Linked DNA regions of Homo sapiens. The protein of the gene in region 3 purifies or fractionates together with the protein of the main gene of each other region. This does not show direct contact. Each region holds a gene or a part of one and is shown on either strand. Other genes may lie near its edges.

The links.
Region 1: the proteins of ZMYM6 (region 3) and BLK purify together in Homo sapiens (affinity purification with mass spectrometry; one large-scale study listed by BioGRID and IntAct). This does not show direct contact.
Region 2: the proteins of ZMYM6 (region 3) and PPWD1 purify together in Homo sapiens (affinity purification with mass spectrometry; one large-scale study listed by BioGRID and IntAct). This does not show direct contact.
Region 4: the proteins of ZMYM6 (region 3) and PLS1 purify together in Homo sapiens (affinity purification with mass spectrometry; one large-scale study listed by BioGRID and IntAct). This does not show direct contact.

The regions. Positions count from the first base shown.
Region 1 is NC_000008.11:11,543,784-11,549,886, forward strand, and holds part of BLK (tyrosine-protein kinase Blk), read left to right. Parts: intron 1-2,268; coding exon 2,269-2,320; intron 2,321-4,248; coding exon 4,249-4,342; intron 4,343-5,240; coding exon 5,241-5,339; intron 5,340-6,103. UniProt on the Homo sapiens protein: Non-receptor tyrosine kinase involved in B-lymphocyte development, differentiation and signaling. B-cell receptor (BCR) signaling requires a tight regulation of several protein tyrosine kinases and phosphatases, and associated coreceptors.
Region 2 is NC_000005.10:65,582,579-65,588,681, forward strand, and holds the end of PPWD1 (peptidylprolyl isomerase domain and WD repeat-containing protein 1), read left to right. Parts: intron 1-459; coding exon 460-641; intron 642-2,435; coding exon 2,436-2,517; intron 2,518-3,420; coding exon 3,421-3,603; intron 3,604-4,674; coding exon 4,675-4,818; 3' UTR 4,819-4,971; downstream 4,972-6,103. UniProt on the Homo sapiens protein: PPIase that catalyzes the cis-trans isomerization of proline imidic peptide bonds in oligopeptides and may therefore assist protein folding. May be involved in pre-mRNA splicing.
Region 3 is NC_000001.11:35,023,829-35,029,931, reverse strand, and holds part of ZMYM6 (zinc finger MYM-type protein 6), read left to right. Parts: intron 1-6,103. UniProt on the Homo sapiens protein: Plays a role in the regulation of cell morphology and cytoskeletal organization.
Region 4 is NC_000003.12:142,671,538-142,677,640, forward strand, and holds part of PLS1 (plastin-1), read left to right. Parts: intron 1-4,619; coding exon 4,620-4,752; intron 4,753-6,103. UniProt on the Homo sapiens protein: Actin-bundling protein. In the inner ear, it is required for stereocilia formation. Mediates liquid packing of actin filaments that is necessary for stereocilia to grow to their proper dimensions.

The DNA.
Region 1 (6,103 bases), on a different chromosome or scaffold from region 3:
CTTAAGTTTTCCTGGAATCCCATGGGCATTTTAAATGAGGAAAACTTTCCAAAGGAAAAAAAAAGTGAAATTTCAAGTGAAAAGGTCTTATTGCTGGGGAATGCATTTTCCTAGTCATGCAGTTTGATTTGTTTATAAAACACTTAGCTCCTTTTGATGGCTACAGCATGTCTGAAGATGCATTTTTTTTTTTTTTTGAGACAGAGTCTCGCTCTGCTGCCCAGGCTGGAGTGCAGTGGTGGGACCTTGGCTCACTGCAACCTCTGCCTCCTGGATTCAAGTGATTCTCGTACCTCAGCCTTCTGAGTAGCTGGAATCACAGGCACACATGCCACCACACCTGGCTAATTTTTACATTTTTAGTAGAGACAGAGTTTCACCATGTTGGCTAGATTGGTCTTGAACTCCTGACCTCAGGTGATCCACCTGCCTTGGCCTCCCAAAGTGGTGGGATTACAGGTTTGAGCATCCGTGCCGGGCCTGAAGATACATTTTTAGATGATTCTTTGTGCTCTCTCCACTCCCTGACCAGTGACCCCCTTTTGGTTTGGGGCAGTTGGGAGCCTTGCCGCGACCCCCTCTCCTGTGCTGTCCACATGTCCACGTGGTCATCTCTTTATCCTAACAGGGACCTGATGGGGAGACGGGGATTACTAATCCCACTTCCTAGATGAACCCAGGCATCTTACCTATCTGTGTCCCAGTTTAGCGCCAGTCTCAGCGCACAACCACAAGATGTTTATTGAATAAATAATTGATCAAATGGGGAAACTTGGACTTAGACTGATTGAGTAATTTCCCCAAAATTATATGATAATAAGTAGTAGCACCTGGAATTTTTTTCACTTAAAAGAGTCACATAATATGTATATGGAAAAAATTATAATTACTCATTATTCCACTATGTAGAGTCACCAGAGTTGCCTCGAGACCCTTCTTCCGTGTGTTCATTTCATGTGTTCCTATTTTTAAGAGAAACATACATGCACATCATTTTGCAAAATGCTACTTCAAAATTGTGTTCAATAAATATGGAATTAAGAAAAGAATATTTGTAACATATGTCAGGTTGAAAGAATACACCAAAACGCACACTTGTATAGCCACCTCCCAACTTCAGACAAGAAAGAGACTCGTTCCTTTGAATCTCCCTCCTCCCTCCCCTGTTTGTACCCTTCACCCCAGGCCCCAATACCCAGAATCTGTTTATCATTCCTTAGCTTTGCTTTTTAATATTATCACATATGTATTACCCCTAAACGATATTTAGTTTCATTATTCATGTTGTAAACTTTAAATCAACTACATCAAACAGCGCATATGCTTCTGAGACTGGGGTTGTGGCTCCGTGTTACGCATGTGAAACATATCGACGTTGATGCACGTGGCTGTTGCTCATTAATTTTATTGCCTGAGTATACTGTAATTTGTTTATTCTTCTGTCATGAGGGTTAGTTCCACGTTTTAAAATTGTTTATGTATCGGTCGGGCATGATGGCTCACGCCTGTAATCCCAGCACTTTGGGAGGCCGAGGTGGGAGGATCACTTGAGGCCAGGAGTTCAAGATCAGCCTGGCCAACATGGCGAAAACCTGTATCTACTAAAAATACAAAAATTAGCTGGGCGTGATGGCGGGCACCTGTAATCTCAGCTACTTGGGAGGCTGAGGCACGAGAATTGCTTGAACTGAGGAGGCGGAGGTTGCAGTGATCCGAGATTACGCCACTGCACTCCAGCCTGGGCAACAGAGCGAGACTCCATCTCAAAAAAAAATTGTTTATGTATTATGATTTTTGCTAGGAGCCCTCTTGTACACATTCCCTTGTACACTCTTGTACACATACACAGAAGTTTCTCTACAGGATATATACCTACAAATATGTTTGTCGAGTTTTGGGGAAATATGCTTTTTAAATATTTTTTCTTGTCAACAAATACCCGTTTGCAGTTTGATCTTGTAATGGTAGAGCCAGGATGTTAAGCCCAAGTGGTTGGGCTTTCCCTCATTGTCCACAGCTGTCTCATATCCACATTGGGGCATCCCCCAGCGCGGTCAGGGCAAAGGCAGCAGAGGGCGGGGGTCTGTCTGAGGGTAGTGCTGGTCCCTGGGTACAGAATGTCCCTGAGCAGCCCCCACAGGCAGCTGCCTCTCCTCCTTCAGTAGGTCCCTGGAGATACCCTGGCTGCCCGGCTCAGCAGTCTCAACCCCCAGGCCCCACCCACGCAGCAGGGACTGAAATAACTCAAGTGTGTGTTTTCTACCCAAGGTTGTCTTCAACCACCTTACTCCTCCACCGCCCGATGAACACCTGGATGAAGGTAAGAAGGGTGGTTTGGGAAGCTGAGGCTCCACAGCCCTCTCCCCTAGGTGGCAGCTTTGTGGAGTTGGAAAAAGGTTGAGTCAGGAGCAGCTTGAGGGCTGGAGAAGAGAAAACGGGGAAGCTGAGAGAGGCCCCGGCTCTGTGCCTCTTGGGGCGTCTCTTCAGGAACCAAGAACAAGTTTCTTCAGTATGCCTGAGCCTGGGTGGGACTTTTAAAACATGAAAGACTTTACAAACTGTAAACAAGAACAAAAACAAGAGTCCCAGGGAAGACACACAGCATCATCAAACCCAAGTTTTAAAATATGCTAACTCTCAAACGCAAAGGGCTGGGCCAGTGGCTCCAGGCCCTTGCCTCCAGCCCCTGTCCGCTCTATGTGGAGGGCACCTTCTTGTTTCCCGCTCCCAGTCACTTCGAGAGTCCCGCTGCTGACCACCTAACCACCCACGCCCCTACCTGGTCCCCAGACTCCACTTGGTTTTTTTTGAGACAGAGTCTCGCTCTTGTCACCCAGGCTGCAGTGCAGTGACCCAACCTCAGCTCACTGCAACCTCCACCTCCCGGGTTCAAGAGATTCTCCTGCCTCAGCCTCCCAAGTAGCTGGGATTACAGGTGCACACAACCACACCGGGCTAATTTTTATGTTTTTACTAGTGAGGGGGTTTCACCATGTTGGCCAGATTGGTCTTAAACTCCTGACCTCAGGTGATCTGCCCGCCTCAGCCTCTCAAAGTGCTGGGATTACAGGCGTGAGCCACTGTGCGTGGCCCCTAGACTCCACTTCTGCTCTGGTGGGCTGGCCTGCTGGGTACTGTAGGGAATGAGCTCAGCCTTTCTGGGCCAGAGGCTCCACCCCTGGGGACTCCCAAGAGGGTGGCCTCCTTCAAAGTGACTTCCCGCAGCCTCCTCATCATCCATGTCCACACAGCATGGGGAAGGGATGCCTCGGCCAGCCGGGCCCCACCCATTAACCTGCTCATATGATGTGTACTGGGCATTCAGCACACAGAGCCCAGCTCTGTCCCAGGAATGGCGAAGGGGTGACAACAGGTAGATGCGACCCCTTCCCTGGAAAAGCTCAGAATCTGTCACACTTGTGAGCAGAACCTGAATCTTAAAACTTCAGGGAACCACTGTCACCCATTCTGACCCTCGCTTTCCTGCTGAGAAGAGGTGACCAGCCCGAGGTCACAACACTCAGCTCAGTGACAGAGCGGAGCCACCCCACCCGGGGAAGCTAAGTGCTCTCCAGGTGACCTTCATCAGGTGGGTCCTGTGGCTCCCAGAGCTGTGCAGAGAGCCTGCGTCACAGCAGGGCTCACTTGAAGATGGTGCTCCAAGCTCCTGAGCCCTCTTCCTGCCTTCCATCCAGGGCCCGCCAGCAAGGTGGGGGGCCCGGCAGGGTCACTGGCAGCCATAGACAGTGTGGCTGGGGCTCTGGGCACAGACAGTGGAGAGGCCAGGGCTCCAGCTGCCACGTGGCAAGACCACCCCTACTGGGGATAGAGGCAGGCGGGGCAGAGGAGGAAAAGGATAAGAGGAGGCTTATGGGCCTCCGAGGGCAGGTGTAGAATAAGAAGATGAGGGCTCCCAGCACTATGTCCGAATGTGGGCCTGAGGCCACCAGCAGCCCGGCAGTGGCTGCCTCCCTGTGGCTGACCTCTGGCCATCAGCTTCCTCACACACGCCTTGTCCAGGTCATAGGGCTTCTTAGTGGGTCCACAACGGAGGACAGGATGGGCTCTGGGGGGCAGCCCATCCCTGGTGGGGTCACAGGGCTGGGGGTGGGGGCCTGTGCTGGGTGAGAACATCATTTCCATCGTGGGCAAGCAGAAGCCTGTCCTCCTTGGTAGCCAGGCTCACCCCAGCCCCACCTTCCCGCTTGTGGGCCTGAGTGGTGGTCATCTCTCCCTTGTTCATTTTAGACAAGCATTTCGTGGTGGCTCTGTATGACTACACCGCTATGAATGATCGGGACCTGCAGATGCTGAAGGGGGAGAAGCTACAGGTCCTGAAGGGGTGAGGTTCCAGGACACCATCCCCTGTCCCTGCAGGACCCCCCTCCCCCACATCTCTCCTTTCTCCACCCACCACATCCTCCATGGCTGACCCTGGAAGTCTTCTCCATCGCCCTGCCCCCAGCCCTGGCCCCAGCATTTTCTTGAACTTGGCCCTTTTGTCTTCCTCTCCAAAATCTTTCCGGTGAAGTAATTTCCATTCACAACCTCCTGCTCATCCTTCAAAGTCCACGTTCCATGCCACCGCCTCCATGCAGCCCTCCTGACTCTTTTGGGCATGTGGACCTTGTCCTTTATGCAGGCTGGTCTGGCTGTTCCGTGAAAGCCTTGCATTTAAGCCAGTTGTGTCCATATTTGTCTCCTTTTCAAGACAGGAGCCCACACTGATGACACACACCAATCCCGCTTTAGCTCATTTCCCATGTCCTTCTCAGAAACTCCTTCTAGGTCAGCTCTCTCTCAGTGGCCAGGCTTGTCCTGTGGAGCTCTGAGGGTCTGATTTGGTTCTTGAAGTTCTCCAAAGGCCCTGAGCCAAGCTCACGAAGGTCCTGACTGCTGATTCTATACAGTCCACGCCAACCGTGTTTTTCTCAAGCCTGTCCCCAGTCCCTCACCAAGCTCTGAACACGTCCCATTCATCAAGAGGAAGGCTGCTGGCTGGATCCTTGTGCCCTCTTGGCTGGTCAGGCTGTGTAGATAAGCTCTTCCCCCTAGAACTTGCCCGGATAGCCACTGTACCACTGAGCAGTGGGCACAAGCCCCTTCCTGCCTGCCGTACTCTCTACCCCTGCGGATTCTCTGCCCTCCAGGGAGAGATGACTTTGAGGAGGCCTGAGAGCTGCCCAGTGACGGGCCTACAGGGGCCATGATCTCATCTCTGTTTCCCCTGCTCCCATTAGAACTGGAGACTGGTGGCTGGCCAGGTCACTCGTCACAGGAAGAGAAGGCTATGTGCCCAGTAACTTTGTGGCCCGAGTGGAGAGCCTGGAAATGGAAAGGTAGGTGGGCACGGGAACCCCCCTCGAGCCAAGATGCAGTCACTGTTTCTGCTCCCTGGGCTGTTAGGCAGGGCAGGGCCAGAGTGGGACTGACCAGGGAGCCTGCAGGCACTAGCAAAGAGGGGACAGGAAATGAGCTCTGCTGGGAAAGGCCTCTCTGCTGGCTCCAGACGACATTCAGACTGCTGTGTGACACTGAGCAAGCCGCTCTTCCCAGCTAAACAAGAGCGGTCCTTCTCCTGGCTCCCCTGGATGGAACCGGCCCCAGTGTCTGATGGCCTCGAAGGCTACCAGGGAGGCACTATGACCAGCATCCCCTCCCCTACAGCCTCCATGGGCAGGACTCAGGGCTCAGCCCTCGGGGGCTCCCAGGAGGGTGGCGTTGTTCAGAACTGATTAATACTCCCAATCTTCTAATCCCCCAGCCCCCATCTTCTCCCATGTCCCCATGGCACTGGGAATTTCGGACTCGGCCAGCCAGAGCCCCCACGAATCTGCTCACAGGGACTAGCTCTGCCTGAGGACTGAGGCCCAGCAACGAGTCTTCTCTGGACACTGTGGGCCCCGCTTCTTTCCCTGGAACAGTGTGGGGAACCGTGGGGCTGTCCTGCACAGAACAACCCCATACCGAAGGGGACATACTGGGGTCCCTGCTCAGAGAGTCTCGGCAGTTTGCCTAATTCAGATCTCAGACTGCAAGGAGGAGGCACGTGCCTGTGATACGCAGCTGTGCTTTGGAGAGAGTGATCAGGGGCATTTTTCCA
Region 2 (6,103 bases), on a different chromosome or scaffold from region 3:
ATGTACTGTTATCATCATATATGAGTGAGGGAAGAGAAGAAATGAATTCACATCCCCAAAGTCGCAGAACTGGAATTCAAATCCAAACAATCTAAATAATGAACTGAGCAACAAACAGGTGGCATGTTAGGCCTTACTAGAAGGCATAAGTCGAGAGCTACCACAAATGAAACAATTATTCTTGTTAAATGTTTGCCCAAGAAAATTTCTAACCAAAGAAATTAAATTCCATTTGAAATCAATGTGTTCAGTATGTTATGTGGATCCTTTTCATATTAGACAATGTAAAAATAATTTAATTGCCTGACACATCCTGTATGGGAAGTGATTCCTGAAATAAGGATTCTGATGTGAATTCTTACATTTCTTAAGTACTTCATTAGAAATTCTATTGTTCATAAAATTTTTACCAGATGAAAACTTTAATTCGTTGACTCACTTTTTACTTTCCTCCTTGAGTTTACCAAACGAGAACCAGAAGATACGAAAAGTGCAGATTCTGATCGAGATGTTTTTAATGAGAAACCTTCTAAAGAAGAAGTCATGGCAGCTACTCAAGCTGAAGGACCTAAACGAGTTTCGGACAGTGCCATTATCCACACCAGCATGGGAGACATTCACACCAAACTTTTTCCTGTTGAGTATGTATAACAACTGTTTTTATTGGCTTATGTAATTAAGAATGTAAATGTGTATATCTGAAGAAACCATGCAACTTAAAATTCCCGTTACTTTGACTTAAGGAATTTTGAAGAAACGTTTGATAAAAAACATCTATTCCTGAGCTTTCTGATAAGTGTTACGGTAGAAAATGGGAAATTTTTATGCATATATACTTTATAGGTTCATTACGAGGACAAAATGTATTGGCTATGAAAGTGCTGAGTGTAAACTGTAAAGTGATACACAAATGTGTATCACTGTTACTGTTAACAGCACATCTGAACTCTAGGTTTTGTGGATTGCTTTGCTTTCCTCTCAAAGCAAATCCTTAAGAGAAAGATAATTATGTTTCCTTACCAACAGTTGCTAGATACCTACTATCTCTTTATAGTTTCAGTAGCTCTGTGTTTTAAAAGTGAACTACAAGCTGGGTGCAGTGGCACGCACTTGTAATCCCAGCTATTCAGGAGGTTAAGACAGGAAGATCAGTGGAGGCCAGCAGTTTGAGACTAGCCCGAGCAACACGGCAAGACTCTATCTCTTAAAAAAAATTTTTTTTTATTAGCTGGGCATGGTGGCACGCACCTGTATTCCTGGCTATGCTAGAGGCTGAGGTCAAAAGATGTCTTGAGCTCAGGAGTTTGAGGCTGCAGTTAGCTATGGTCAAACCACTGCACTCCAACCTGGGCAACAGAGTGAGACCCTGTTTCTACAAAAACAAATTACAACAAAACCGTAAGGGCTTCAATTGAAAAAAAGGTGAACAGTTTTCTGGACAGTTTAAAAGACTGTAAAATTAACATACAATGTCAAATACAGTAGAGTATCTCTGGCCATTCTTGACCCAAAAAATGACATCTTTTACAACACTTTTACTTAAAAGTTCTTATTTATTAACATTTTGAATATGAACGTTTTATACCATATCTTGGTACTCAACAAATAACTAGGCAGCTCTAGACTCTTGGACAGTCTCACTTTAAGTGCTCAAAACCCATGTACTCTTCGGCCTTGTTTGCTGATGTACTTGGGTACAAGATTCTCTTGGTTCGTCCATTTCCAGCTCTTAGAAGTATTACATGGTAATGAACCGTATGAAATAATTGCATAATTTTCAGTTAATATTATTGAGAAAGCTTCGTACTCTGAGTGTGATTGTCATTTAAAGTTGAATAAATTTAGATGTCATTTCTATGATTAAGGTTTTGGCCAAGAGTATGTCGCTGTAGCATAACAATGCTTTTGTAAGAAAATGACCTTTCCCAGGAACTTAACCTATACTACTACATGCAGACCTATAATACTATATGGAGTAAACTAACTTAAGATATTGGGCCAGGTACAGTGGCTCAGGCCTGTAATCTCAGCACTTTAGGAGGCTGAGGCAGGAGGATGTCTTGAGTCCAGAAAGTCAAGATCAGCCTAGGCAATATAGTGAGACCTTGTCTCTTAAGAAAAAAACATATTTTTAAGGTGCTATGGCTGTATTTTTTTTGACTGCTAAATGACCTTGAAATTTTAATACTGTCAAACTCAAATATTAGTTAAGCAGTCATGTTCTAAAGATAACTAAGTTGAACAATAAGAATATACTACTTACATGACCCTCCGTGCTTGTCCTGAGATTAGAGATTATGAAAAAAAAAAACAACTGTCCTTCTGAAACATTCAGAAGACATGGAAAGGAAACATCATTAGGAAGCAGAACTGCAAAGAAAACTGTTTTAAGATGCTCTGAATAGGTTTCATATTTGTAACATATGTCTTAATAGGTGCCCTAAGACAGTGGAAAACTTCTGTGTTCACAGCAGAAATGGTTATTATAATGGGCATACATTTCACCGTATAATTAAGGTAAGTTACATAAATTTCATGTCATATAAGAAATACTGTATTATTACATAGCAAGAGATTTAAGCGCAAGGAATCTTCTTCTCTCACACTTAATCAGTTTAGTGGAAAGGAACAGGAAAAATACACTATGGAAGCCAAAGGAGGAGTGGATGGTCATAAATATCAACATCTAGAATCAACAGGAATAGTGGCATGATTAGAAACACTGAAGCAATATTTTGTCAGCAGCTAAAGTAAAGGGTAAGATAATGAATAAAGGGTCATGCTGAGATTACATCAGTAACCTAGGTAACCTCTTTGTCGTGGCTAGATAGGGTCTAGATCTAGAAGATATGATTTTTCAATCATAGAGGAGCCACAGTGCCATCTGATCTGTGAGAACCTGTAATATACCAGAGGAGGAGAGAGAACTCAGCCCCTGGATTTTGTTGAGCAGCTTTCCATAAAGTGGATGGGGCACTGATACAGTGCTTGGTTTCTGGCAGGTCAGAAACGGCAGGATGAAAAGTCAGATCTCAGGGTCCTAAAGGAATTAGCGAAAAGGCTTTCCAGGAAATCCAGAGTATTTGGGGAAAGGGAGAGGGAGAAGAGGAGGGCAATTATATAAAACATAACATACAGATCCTAAAATTGATAGTATTAACTGGCTTTATTTGGGTTATTGAGAAAGACAGAACATGTCTATAAATGAGAAGACGACCTTTGCATTTATGTTTCAATCAAGGTGGTGGTTGGGCAATGGAAATACATCATCCAAATTTAAGTGTTAAGGGTTTAATCAAATCACTTTATAGTGACAGTTAATATTACACTGAATACAAAGCACTCTTGGCAGAAATAAAACTTCAAAGCGTACATATATCGAAAAGGACAATGTAATGTTTTTGTGTACTTTCTGTTAAGGGCTTTATGATTCAGACTGGAGATCCAACAGGTACTGGTATGGGAGGAGAAAGCATATGGGGAGGAGAATTTGAAGATGAATTTCATTCAACATTACGACATGACAGGCCATACACACTCAGCATGGCTAACGCGGGATCAAATACTAATGGATCCCAGTTTTTCATAACGGTAGTACCAACGGTAAGTACAGTATCATTGTTTATAAACTACAGATTGATAGGTTATGATGTAAGAGAGTGAACTCAGTAGAAGAGCTGCATTATTCTGTATTTTCTGCATTATTTATATCATCTAGCAGAATACAAATATGAAAATGATCAAGAATATAAAATTATGTGACTAATCAGTTTAGAATTGGTAAAACAATACTGCCACTGTAGTAAGAAATACAATGGACTACGATTCAAGATACTTGAGTTTCAATCTCAACTCTGCCTCTACTGATGATGTAACCTAAAATAAATTATTTCACTTCTGTGAGCCTATTTCCTTGTCTTTAGAATACAAAGATTAGAGTATATGAATTCACAATTTTGAGACAATTTCCCCCACATTTTAGTATCTCTGAAATCAGAATACATTAGATTTGATGAAATACAGTATAAGGTAACCTAGCTCTATTGCTATGCCATAACACAAAATTATAAAAATTACCTAGTTTTTGTTTTGGAATTAAGCACTAAGTGATGAAGAAGGGAAAAATGTAACTACCATCTGCCAGGCACATAGTTTTATGTAGTATTCACAGTACTTCTACTATCAGTATCCCCAGTTTTCAATAATAGATGAAGAAACAGTGAGACATGATTAACTTGCCAAAAGGTCAAGTAGCCAAGCTAGCATTTGAACTCCCACCTGTCTAATGCCAAAGTATGTGCTGCATAAACTATTTCAAACTGCCTCTGAATAAACTGTTCAGGTAAGAGTCCTCCAGAGACCTTTTAAAGCCTTAGCCACAATTCTGTAAGCCATGTGAAGTAACTTACCTTTAGGGAAGATCTTCCAGTTCCCTTTGGTCTGAAAGATGCAGATATTTAATTAAACATTATACTATGCTTCTATTTTTTTTAACACACTGGAAATAACTTTTAAAAGCTGCTACATTTTTATTGCTGAGAAATTATTGTACTTCTTTTTAAATATATGCTAAAGGGGAGCGTAAACTTAAATTCTCTTTAATTTGCTCAACCAGAGGATATAATTTAAAGAAATTGGGGTTTACCAAGATTTTCCATTTGTCCTCCAACACAGCCTTGGCTTGATAATAAGCATACAGTATTTGGACGAGTGACTAAAGGAATGGAAGTTGTACAGAGGATCTCCAACGTCAAAGTCAATCCCAAAACAGATAAGCCCTATGAGGATGTCAGCATCATAAATATTACTGTCAAGTAAAATAAGATTTGTTTTAATGTACTTGCAAATAAAAATACAATATTAAACAGATTATTTTACATTAGGAAGCTTAGGACTTGCTGAATATACAGATCATGTTTCAAAGATACAGTATTTTTGTATTTTTTATTAAAGGCTATTTTTTAAAAATTACCTTTGACTTTTCTCGCAATATTTCTAATCCTGGGAGGTGATAAATTGAAATGGACTAAACTCAGGCAAATAGCACTCATTATAGGTAATTTCTAATCAGCCTCAAATTAAATATTAAATAATTACAGTACTCTCCTCCACCCCCTTTCCCATGGTTTTCTTTCTACTGTCAACCATGATCCAAAAATAGGTGAGTACAATACAGTGAGATATTTTCAGACAGCAAGACCACATTCACTAACTTTTATTACAGTATACTGCTATAGTTGTTCTATTTTATTGTTGTTAATCTCTTACTGTGCCTAATTTATAAATTAAACTTTATCATAGATATATATATATGAAAACACAATATATATGGGGTTTAGTATCATCTGAAGTTTCAGGCATCCACTGGAGGTCTTAGAAGGTATCCCGTGCGATGACAACTCTATTAAATAATGACAGTGGTACACAACTGTGCTTTAATTTTGAATACCTGCCAGATATTCCGCCCTTATGTTTAGAAGAGTGCAGATCCCTCCTATAAGAAAAAAATACTAGGATATGATATTATATGTCATTTCCTTTGTTTTACAAGGTTTCAATGCCAAATATTTTAGTCTTTTGATAACTGTTTAGTAAGTAGTGGTGAGTAAAGCCTCAATAAACAGGAAGTTACTTTGGTCAAAGTGTTATATTCCTTAATAATTATGAAATATTCTTTCAAATGAAAGATTCAGAATAAGTGAATACCTGAGTCCTTAGTTTATTATATGCAGGTTGATTTTCAGATTATTTTTCTAACATAGGTAAACAATTTTTTCTGTCCTCAAGTTATAGTATATCTTTAGAAAATATACCATTAAGAAGTATACATAAAAATTTTGGTATCTAACAATGGAGAGATTAGTAGAAATTGGAGCAGTAAAACAATATGAGCACAAATTCTTATATTGATCTTCTTCACTTACACTTATAACTAACTTCATAACTATTAAGACTCACTGCTTCGTTTCCAGAAAGAAAGACTCTTTCTTTCAGAAACTTACAGGAAGAACATTCTCAACAGACCTGTGTAGGGAATTTATATTCTTAAGTTTTAAATCGGCTTAAACTTTTCCTTCTATTGATCAGCAGGATTCTTTATTTA
Region 3 (6,103 bases):
TTATATGTTAGTAGAGGAGGCAGAGATTACAAAAGTATTGGTCAAGTAATATATATAATTACAAACTATGACAAGTACTCTGGAAGAAAAGCCTAAAATGGGGAATCTGACCTAGTTTTGGTTGTGGTCTGCCTGGGGATGGCTAGGGAAGGCCTCTCTAAGGGAAGGATGTGTAAGCTGAATTATGAAGAATGAATTGATTAGGCAAAGGGTATGGAGAAGAGTATTACAGACAGAGGGAACTGTGAATAGGAAAGCCCTGAGTTGGAAAGATGCATGGTTCTTTTTAAGACCTGCAGGAACAGTGAGCCTGGAACAGAAAAGGTATGAAAATGGTGATGATGATAATGATTAAAACAACAACAATAAAAATAGCTGGCATTAGTATATCAGTATGTAGTATATATTATATCATAATCATATGTGACATTATTAACTTAATATTTATATATGCTTAAGAGTGTGTCAGGCACCATTCTTACCACCATATTATTATCCCCATTTTACAGATGAGGAAACCAAAGCTCAAAAAAGCCAAATAGTTTACCACAGATCACAGTTAGTAGTAAATGACAAAGACTGGATTCAAATCCAGGTGGTCAGACTCCAGAACTTGTGCTATTCTGCTTCTCTATGATAAGGCTGTATATATAGTTTAAGGCTGGATTATGTAGGACGTAGCAGACCTTGTTATAAATTTTGGTTTTTATCCTAAGAGCAGTAGATAGCCATTATAGGGTTTTTTGTTTTTGTTTTGAGATGGAGTTTTGCTGCAATGTTGTAATCTTGGTGGCTCACTGCAACTTTCACATCCCGGGTTCAAGTGATTCTCCTGCCTCAGCCTCCCCAGTAGCTGGGATTATAGGCGCCTGCCACCACGCCTGGCTAATTTTTTGTATTTTTAGTAGAGACGGGGTTTCACCATGTTGGCTAGGCTGGTTTCAAACTCCTGACCTCAGGTGATCCACCCACCTCAGCCTCCCAAAGTGCTAGGATTACAGGCGTGAGCCACCACACCTGGCCAATTGTAGGGTTTTAAGTGAGAAAGTAAGATGAAACAGATTTGTGTTTGGAAAGATCATTCTGGCTACCCCATAGGGACCCAGAATGGAGAGCACGGAAATCAATGTGGAGGCTGGGCACAGTGGCTCACGTCTGTAATCCTAGCACTTTGGGAGGCCAAGGCAGGCAGATCACGAGGTCAGGAGATCGAGACCATCCTGGCTAACACGGTGAAACCCCGTCTCTACAAAAAATACAAAAAATTAGCTGGGCGTGGTGGTGGGCGCCTGTAGTCCCAGCTACTTGGGAGGCTGAGGCAGGAGAATGGCGTGAACCCAGGAGGCGGAGCTTGCAGTGAGCCAAGATTGCGCCACTGCACTCTAGCCTGGGTGACAGAGTGAGACTCCGTCTCAAAAAAAAATAAAATAAAATCAATGGGAGAGATGAGTTAGTTGTTTTGGCAAGGAATTTTTCTTCTGGGACAGTTCTTTCGCTTTACACTCAAAGTTATTGACTTTATTGTATCAGCAAAGCAATTATATTTTAAAATAATAAAAAACAATTTTATTTTTCACACCATCTCACAGGCAGTATCATTCCTTTTTTTTTTTTGAGATGGAGTCTTGCTCTGTCACTCCCAGGCTGGAGTGCAGTGGCGCGATCTTGGCTCACTGCAACCTCCGCCTCCCAGGTTCAAGCGATTCTCCTGCCTCAGCCTCCTGAGTAGCTGGGATTACAGGTGTGCGCCACCACGCCTGGCTAATTTTTTATATTTTTGTTAGAGACTGGGTTTCGCCATGTTGGCCAGATTGGTCTCAAAACTCCTGACCTCAAGTGCTCTGCCCACCTCGGCTTCTCAAAGTGCTGGGATTATGGTTGTAAGCCACCATGCCCAGCCACAGGCAGTATCATAAGAAGACAGGGATGTCAGGTAGGTTTTGTTTCACTCATGAACTCTATGCCTTGCTAGAGTGCTGGGCTAAGAAGAGTTCTGAGGTAGTGTCTGTTAGATGTGGAGTGGGGGATGGTGGCATCCATGCTACTTGTTTTCCCTCCAGATGGTAAATTCTTACTCTTTCTCTGCCTAAAGTAACCATTTCTTTGCCAGGTTTTGTGGTTTTTAGCTTTTAAATATTTTTTGTATCTGACCCATGATGTTCTTCTATATTTCATTATTTCTCTCTCTCTTTTTTTTGTTTCCTTTTTTTGAGACAGGGTCTCACTTTGTTGCCCATACTGGAGTGCAGTGGTGTGAGTATGGCCACTGCACTCTAAACGATCCTCCCATCTCAGCCTCCCAGGTAGCTGACCACAAACATGCTCCACCACACCCAGCTAGTTTTTGTAGAGACGGGGTCTCCTTATGTTGCCCAGGCTGGTCCTGAACTCCTGACCTCAAGCAATCCTCCTGCCTTGGCCTCCCAAAGTGCTGGGATTACAGGCATGAGCCATCATGCCTGAACTATTTCATTATTTTTCATTTGGACTTTTATAATAGTTTCCTACCTATTCTCCTTCCTTCAGTCACATATCCCATCAAAACACTCTACAGTGATGCCATTGTACTGTATAGATCGAGTGATATTTCTCCCTTTAAAGACCCTGTTTCCTCCAGTGTGATGAAGCAAAGATCTTTCAATGTGACATCCAAACCATCCATGTTTAGGCCTTTGTTTCCCTCTCCAGTGTCATCATTCATTGTTTCCACCTTTTCAAATCTATGCTGCTGCCAGCTATTTGCAGTTCACTCAAAACTATCTTCTAAAACTCGGTTGCATTTTATTTCCCTGCCTTTGCACCTGCCATTTCTTGTGCCGGTGGAAGAAGAAATAAGCTAGGTAGGCTGGCAAAATTTTGTCCTCTTTTAAGATGAAGTTTCTCACTCACAAGTAGAATGAGCTGTTCTCTCTCTCTTTTTTTTAATTGTATAGTGCAATCACTTTTATTATGGTATCTACAGGTCAATGAATTTTGTCTTCATACTGATTATACTAATCTGGCCATCTCCTCCTCATCTTTCATTGACACACTAGACTGCAGTCTCTCTGAAGTCAGAAATTGGTCTTATTGACCTGAATCTCCAATTCCTAGCACAGGATTTGGCACAAAGTACATGTTCAATAATTGGAATAAAAGAGCCTCTTTCACATATAAGGAAGCTGAACCTGAAGGAATAAGTGACTTCACCAGTGTCTCATGGTAAAACTGGGATACAACAGTTTGTTGTTACTCCAGATGCAATATTTCTTTCATTATACCTTGCCTATACACTTAACAAATAATGTGCTTTAAGTTAATTCAATGTTCTTTCTGAATATAAAAATTGTGATAATGGAAATCTCCCTAGCAGCTTAGATTGTATATTTAAGAGGGTAGGAACTGCTCAGTTGTCTTTGGTTTATATTAATGTTTTCAGGTGAATAGGCTATATTTTTTCATGATTGAGGGTATAGACTATGATTGAAAAGCCAATTGAACAAATTGTGTATTATTTTCTATGTTGCATTGATGAATCTCCTTTGAATATTGGAAAATAAGAGATAAATAAAAATGTTTTTTATTTTCTGATTTTCTAAGAGTTTGTTCTGGATATTAAAATTATAGTTGAAGGCCAGGCGCGGTGGCTTGTGCCTGTAACCCCAGCAGTTTGGGAGGCTGAGGTGGGCAGATCCCTTGAGGTCAGGAGTTCAAGACCACCCTGGCCAACCTGGTGAAACCCTGTCTCTACTAAAAATACAACAATTAGCCGGGCGCGGTGGTGGGCGCCTGTCATCCCAGCTACTCAGGAGGCTGAGGCATGAGAATCACTTGAACCTGGGAGGCGGAGGTTGCAGTGAACTGAGATTGCGCCACTGCACTCCAATCTGGACGACAAAGGGAGACTCCATCTAAAAAAAAAAAGTTGCAGTTTAGTCCTTATATTCATATATGTTGAGTATTCATATTCATTCAGTGAGTTTTTATTCCTGCCTGCTGTAATCCATAATACTTGAACATTGTTGTGAGCAGTTTACATACCTTAATCCATTCGATGCTCACAACCCTCAGTTAAGTACTGTTTCTCTTCCCACTTTACCCATGAGGAAGCTGAGTCCTAGATAGTAACCCGTTAAAAGTCACATAATTAATAAATGGTTGAGTCAGGATTTGGACTCCAGCAGTCTGATTCAAGAGCCCAAACCCTTAACCAGGATGGTAAACTGTATTAGTTACTTTGTTTTCAGAAAGGCTACAGAGATGAAAAGATAGGACTTCTGCTCTCAAGGTAATTGATAGTGTAATGGAGAGAAAAGTTATGAGAATGAGAGAAGTAATATTTGTTGAGTGACTGTGCCTTGTGAGAAGCTATGCTAAGCATATCTTATGCATTCTCATTTAAACCTAATTGTCTTCAAACTTGTATGCTTTCTGCTGCTTTGTGCCACCTTTTTTTTTTCTTTCTTTTTTTTTTTTTTTTTTTTTTGGGATGGAGTCTTGCTTTGTAGCCCAGGCTGAAGTGCAGTGGCGCCATCTCGGTTCACTGCAACCTCCACCTCCTGGGTTCACGCAGTTCTCCTGCCTCAGCCTGCCGAGTAGCTGGGATTACAGGTGCCCACCACCACACCTGGCTAATTTTTGTATTTTTAATAGAGACGGGGTTTCACCATGTTGGCCGGCTGGTCTCGAACTCTACCTGCCTCGGCCTCCCAAAGTGCTGGGGTTACAGGCGTGAGCCACCGTGCCTGGCCTGTGCCACCTTTTGTGCAAATACAAAATCAAGGCCATGAGTGGTGGCTCATACCTGTAATCCCAGCACTTTGGGAGGCCGAGGTAGGTGGCTCACTTGAGGTCAGGAGTTCAAGACCAGCCTGGCCAACACGGTGAAACCACAACTCTACTAAAAATACAAAAAAATTAGCCAGGCTTCGTGGCACATGCCTGTGATCTCAGCTACTGGGGAGGCTGAGGCAGGAGAATCACTTGAACCCAGGAGGCGGAGGCTGCAGTGAACAGAGATTGCTCCACTGCACTCCAGCCTGGGCAACAGAGCAATATTCCATCTGAAAAAAAAAAAATACAAAATCACAGTCTTAGGTAAGTGCTTTAAAATTGTGTGAGGTGCATTGGGAGCATAGGGGAAGGAGCCCTAAATCTATATGGGAAGGAGAGGAAGGTTTCACATAGCAGGTAGCAATTGTATTATAAAAATTGACTAAGAGTTTCAGACAGAGAAAATATAGCAGAGAAAATAGCCACGTCATGGAGGGGTGAGAGAATGTGGTGTGTTTAATAGTTGAGTATCAACAATAAAGTGGGAAAAGATAATAGATTTAAAAATGGTTAGGTAGGATTGATCAAATTTAGAGATTGTTTATGGGTGTGAAGGTCAAAGAGGAGTCCAAGGATACTTACAGGTTTTGGGGTTTATGGTGATACCATTTACTGAGGGGTTAGAACAGGATTTTGGAGGAAGTACTAAGTGCAGTTTGAGGTCTGTTGTGTTTAAAGGGCTTGTGGGACATTCAAGTGGTAAACTGCACAAGGAGGCATTTGCACATAAAAATCTGGGATTTGAGATTAGAAAGTTATCTACTTGGAGATGTAGGGCTTCCAGATAAAATACAGGATGCCAGGTTAAATTTGACTATCAAATAAACAATGGTGATTTTTACTATAAGTGTATTGCTTGCAATACTTGGAACATAATTATTCTAAAATAGCACTATTTCAGCTATAGCTAAAAAGAAGGTTTCCTTTTCCTGTAAGATAGCAGGACAGTTTGCTGAGCAATTTGTAGGTAAGGTGGAGGGGGCTGAGGGATGTTGAGGGAGTTCTTAGTTACTTGTTTTTACCTGGTGCAATTGAAACATCAATGAGCAGGAAAGATGTGGAGTTGGGACTCGTGAGCTATGAAGGTTTAGAAAAATTACTTTGTGAGGTAAAAGAAACTGGTCAGGGAAATATAACAGAAATACTAGAAAAATTTTAGAAATTGAGTTGATAAGGCAAAGAAATTTTTATTGAATCTGGCCGGGCGCGGTGGCTCATGCCTATAATCCCAGCACTTTGGGAGGCCGAGACGGGCAGATCACGAGGTCAGGAGATCGAGACCATCCTGGCT
Region 4 (6,103 bases), on a different chromosome or scaffold from region 3:
TCTCTTCCATTTTCTGAGATCTGAGATACCCGATTCACCTTTTATCTAGTAACCAAGTGACTAGAGAGCATAGCACCTGATTTGCTTGATCTGATTAAACCACTGGACCATTGCCCAGTGGGAAATGCAGAAGCATATCAACTTTTAAGATGAGGTGTCTTCCCCGTGTTAAGTTATCTAAGATGTCTAAGAACCTTTGGCCAAGTTCTTTTTATTTATATGAACATAACTAGAACTATGCTTTTTGGCCTTTTGACAAAATTACCTGTAACCTTTTCCCCTCTTTCTTCATTTCAGATCTGAATCTGTTAATTATCCTCTTGATTCTGTCCCTTCCTAATTGGATTTTCCTCTAGCGATACACTCAAATTTCTCTCATCTATTATATGTTTTTCCTAACTTTTTCCCACTAGGGAAGCAGCCATAAAGGCAAAGGTCCATAACTGTTACCTTCACTTTTTGAAAGGTATTCACCCCTTAACCCAGTTTCTGCCTGTCAATTCTACTGAAGTGGCTTCTTTTTAAAGACAAAAAAAAATTATTAAGGTATAATACACATTCAGCAAAGTGCTATAATCTTAAGTATATGGCTCAATGAATTTTTCCATGTGTATATACATTCATGTAGCTGCCAACCAGAACAAGACATGGAATCTTTTCATCACCTGAAGACTCCCTCATTCCCCTGATAGTAACTATTCTTCCCTAGAGGTAACCTCTTTTCTGATATTTGTCACCATAAATTTTTGTTTACTTATTTTTTGAGGTATAAGATACTTGTAGTAAAGTGCATGAAGTGTACTTTTTTTTTTTTTTTTTTTTTGAGATGGCGTCTCGCTCTGTCGTCCAGGCTGGAGTGCAGTGGTGCGATCTCGGCTCACTGCAAGCTCCACTTCCCAGGTTCACGTCATTCTCTTGCCTCAGCCTCCTGAGTAGCTGGGACTACAGGTGCCCGCCAACACGCCCAGCTAATGTTTTTGTATTTTTAGTAGAGTCAGGGTTTCACCGTGTTAGCCAGGATGGTCTCGATCTCCTGACCTCATGATCCACCCGCCTTGGCCTCCCAAAGTGCTGGGATTACAGGCATGAGCCACCACACCAGGCTGAAGTGTACTATTCTTAAGTATATGGCTTGATGATTTCTTTTAACCTATGAATACACCTATATAACTATTCTCTAGAAAAATATATGGAATATTTAATGGCTTTTATAAAAAATAGCAGCTTTATTGAGATATAATTGACATACCATGGAATACATTTTTAAAGTATACAGTTCAGTAGTTTTTAGTGTATTCATAGTTGTGCAATTGTCATCACTATTTAATTTCAGAACACTTTCATTACACCAAAGAAGAACACTATATTCATTATCAGTCACTCCCCATTTCCCTCTTCCCGAAGGCTCTGCAACCATTAAACTGCTTTCTATTTCTACAAATTTGCCTATTCTGGAAGTTTCATATAAATGGTATCATACTGTAGTGGCCTTTCATTTGACAGGCTTCTTCACTGGTGTAATATTTTCAAGGCTTATCCATGTTGTCACATATATCATACTTCATTCCTTTTTTTCTGACTGCAGCCTCGACCTCCAGAGTTCAAGGGATCCTCCCACCTCAGCCTCCCAAGTGCATAACCATGCCTCCCAAATGTGTACCACCATGCCCAGCTAATTTTTCTATCTTTTGTAGAGATGGGGTTTTGCTATGTCACCCAGGTTGATCTTGAACTCCTGGGTTCGAGCGATCTGCCTGCCTTGGGATTACAGGTGTGAGCCATGGTACCTGGCCCCTTCATTCCTTTTTATTGCTGAATATTCCATTCTATGGGCAATACCACATTTTGTTTATCCTTTCATCAGGTGATGGACATTTGGGTTGTTTCTAGTGTTTGGCTATTATAAATAATGCTATATGAACACTCATGAATGCATTTGTGTGTGGACATATACTTTGAATTCTCGTAGGCATATACTTAGGAGTAGAATTGCTTGAATTTTTGTTAACTCTATGTTTATCATTTTTAAAGAACTGCCAAATTGTTTTCCAAAGTGGCTGCACTTGTGAGGGCGATCTGGCTGCGACATCTGTCACCCCATTGATTGCCAGGGTTGATTTGGCTGATCTGGCTGGCTAGGCAGGTGTCCCCTTCCTCCCTCAGTGCTCCATGTGAGTCCTTCCCGAAGCTGCGTGCTCGGTTGAAGAGGACAACCATCCCAATAGAAGAGGACTGGTCTTTGGTCAAGGGTATACGAGTAGCTGCACTCCCCTGCTAGAACTTCCAAACAAGCTCTCAAGGTCCAAAGTGGCTGCACCATCTTACATTCCCACCAGCAATGTATGAGGGCTCCAGTTTCTTCAATTCTCACCAACACTTGTTTTTGTCCATTTAAAAAATTACAGCCATCCTAGTGGTTGTGATGTGGTATCTCATTCCTGGTTCCTATACCTGAAACATCCTTTCTTTCCTTGCCTATATTCACCTATTGAAAAACTATATTTCAAATAGTACCTCCTCTATGAAGCCTTTTCTTGATCACCCTAACTAAAAGTGATTGCTTCTTTTTTTAAATTCTGCAAACATTGCATATATATTTCTGGTGGTGTGTGTATTTCCCTTATATCACATTTCTTTGTATATTTGTTTTACAATTACACTAAAAAATTCCTCAATGGCAGATACAGTATTTTAGTGATCTCTGAATTCCTAGACTCCAAATCCTTCTAAGGAGGTGTGTATGAGGAGGCGAGAAGATAAGGCAGATTATGATATGTACAAAGAGGAAATATTAGTACATATTTGTGTTTTTGTTGACTTGTGTGTGTATGTATGTGTGGTGGATTAAATTTTGGGGGTACCTGCAAAATATTCCCTTGGGAAAATTACTTAATTCTAGGAACTGGGGCAACAATGGAGAAGGCCAAATCATTATGTGCTACCCTCTGATGGAAATGGGGATTATTTACTTTAAGGATTTATAATCTTAAATGGTTTTTATATCTACAGAATAATAATAAAGTTGTACAATGTTTTTACTTTAAGTTCCTTCCTATTTTCCCCACTGCATAACCCAACAAAATTTTCTACTTAAGATCAATGTACCCATACTAGAAGCCATGTGTTGAGAAGTTGTTGGATGAAGATGGCCAAAGATAGTGCTGGTATCTAGATTTGTGTCAATTTTTTCTTCGTTTTTTGTTTTTTTGAGACAAGAGTCTTGCTCTGTTGCCCAGGCTGGAGTGCAGTGGCGTGATCTCGGCTCACTGCAACCTCCGTCTCCCAGATTCAAGCAATTCTCCCTGCCTCAGCCTCCAGAGTAGCTGGGATTACAGGTGCCTGCCACCACACCTGGCTAATTTTTGTATTTTTTAGTAGAGATGGGGTTTTGCCATGTTGGCCAGGCTGGTCTCAAACTCCTGACCTCAGGTGATCTGCCCACCTCAGCCTCCCAAAGTGCAGGGATTACAGGCATGAGCCACCGCACCCAGCCAATTTGTGTCAATTTTTTAATAGTTAAATTCCATTGAAATTGAGCTGTTTTATTCATTTGAATAACTCTTGACTGAATTCAGTATTTCTGTTGTAAGCTAAAAATCACAGCTCTCTAAACCTTTTGGGGAGGATGGGATTTATTGCCATGGTATTTGTTTCTTGTATTTTTTTCCTTATTTAATTAACATATACATATTTGACCTCCGATGGTCTGCTTCTGACTCATTAGCTTTCAGAAGCAATACATATTTGGAAATATTTTTGAATCAAACCAAATATATATTGTGCTCATTTAAGATATATACCTTCATCTCTCCTAATAGATCAGTTTTTTGTTTGTTTTTTTGTTTGTTTTTTGTTTTTGTTTTTGAGACAGAGCCTTGCTCTGTCACCAGGCTGGAGTGCAGTGGCGCGATCTCGGTTCACTGCAAGCTCTGCCTCCTGGGTTCATGTCATTCTCCTGCCTCAGCCTCCCAAGTAGCTGGGATTACAGGCCCACGCCACCATGCCCAGCTAATTTATTTTTGTTTATTTAGTAGAGATGAGGTTTTAACATGTTGGCCAGGATGGTCTTGCTCTCTTGACCTCGTGATCTGCCCGTCTCAGCCTCCCAAAGTGCTGGGATTACAGGCGTGAGCCACCGTGCTCCCCGTTTTTTTTTTTGAAAGGGTCTCTCTTTGTGGCTTAGGCTAAAGTGCAGTGGCAGGATCTCCACTCACTGCAACCTCCACCCCCCGGTTCAAGCAATCCTGAAGCCTCAGCCTCTCGAGTAGCTGGGACTATGGGCATGTGCCATTATGCCTGGCTAATTTTTGTATTTTCAATAGAGACGGGGGTTTCTCCATGTTGCTCAGGCTGGTCTTGAACTCCTGACCTCAAGTGATCAGCCCGCCTTGGAAGTGCTTTGGGAAGTGCTGGGATTACAGGCGTGAGCCACCACACCCAGCCACCTTTCTTCTTTTCTTGAACCCTTTTGTGTTTTAGTAGATTTGTAATAATGGTCAATTATTATCTTTGAGCAGAAATTAACAAGTATGTTTTTGTAGTGCAATAGCTATGTATGTTTTTATAGTGCAATAAAGTTTGTGAAATGAGATTTGCCTACCAAGGTTTTCTCCTTTCAGAGGAAGAAAAAGTGGCTTTTGTTAACTGGATAAACAAAGCCCTGGAGAATGACCCTGACTGTAAGCATCTTATACCCATGAATCCCAATGATGATAGTCTTTTCAAGTCACTTGCAGATGGCATCCTTCTTTGGTGAGTTGAACTTCTGGTTAAGGAAGCTGCGTTCTTGCTGATTACATTGATGAGCATTCCATGAAAACTCCAATTCAGCTGTCCATTGTCTTTTGGAGTCAGTAGCTACTTAGGTCATGAGGAATTTATATTGCATAGAAAATGAACTACTGTATATCTATTGGAAAATTTCCAAAATTTTCCTTCAAATACAATCCCTTGTTTTTCTGTTGCCTTTTACGTGTATTACTATAATAATTGCCAGGAATCTTTTGAGTTATTTGTCTGATGCAGTTTTAAATATTCGCAGGGTTTCTCTTTTCTTTTTCCAGTAAGCGAGTATTGATTATTGACTGGAATGGGACATGAGGAAATGTAAAGGGAAGATATTCCTTATTTGTACCTAAATGAAAATAATGTTTTGATTCAGCCTTGTGTTATCCTTGGCTCTTTGCATTCTATTTTTTCTCACTATGTTGTAAACTCTCTGAGGGAATGTCTTTGTCATTGTTGTGTGTACCACAGTCCCAGCATACTTCTTTGGACAAAGCAGAGGTCTTTTCTTTAGTTTATAAAAAGTACAAAAGATTTACAAAGTAGAAAATAACCATCAAAAATATCCTTACCACCCATAAATGACTTATTAATATTCTAACACATTTCCTTCAGTCTTTTTTTTTATGTTTTTACTTAAAAAGGAAAACAAAACCTTACCCATAAGTACAGGATATTAGATTTTATGACATTAAATATAAAATATACCTTGACCTCCACCTACAATTCTTATCTTTCTTTGACTCTCAGAGAAATTCCTATTATGAACCAAATGGGTATTTTCCTATTCTTGTTTTAAAAGGTAAAATTCTAAAATATAGAGACAAAATTTATATTAATTTCTCTGAAAATGTCTAAATTATTGGTCTTAGATGAAATCTCTGGCTTCGTATCTTTCTGCAACAACAGTAATTTTAACAGTGTTGATACTACTTTATGAAACTTGGCTTCTTGGAGAATTTCTTTGTTTTAGGCTGCGGAATACTGATGATCATTAAGTGAAATAAAGACAAAACTAACATAAAGAAAATTCAGGGTGATGACTGGGCGTGGTGGCTCATGCCTGTAATCTCAGCACTTTGAGAGGCTGAGGCAGGAGGATCACTTGAGGTCAGGAGTTTGAGACCAGCCGGGCCAACATGGTGAAACCCCATCTCTACTAAAAATACAAAAATTAGCTGAGAGGTGGCACACACCTGTAATCCCAGCTACTCGGGAGGCTGAGGCAGGAGTATCACTTGAACCCAGGAGGTGGAGGTTGCAGTGAGCTGAGATCACACCACTGCATTCCAGCCTGGGTGACAGAGGTAGACTCCCT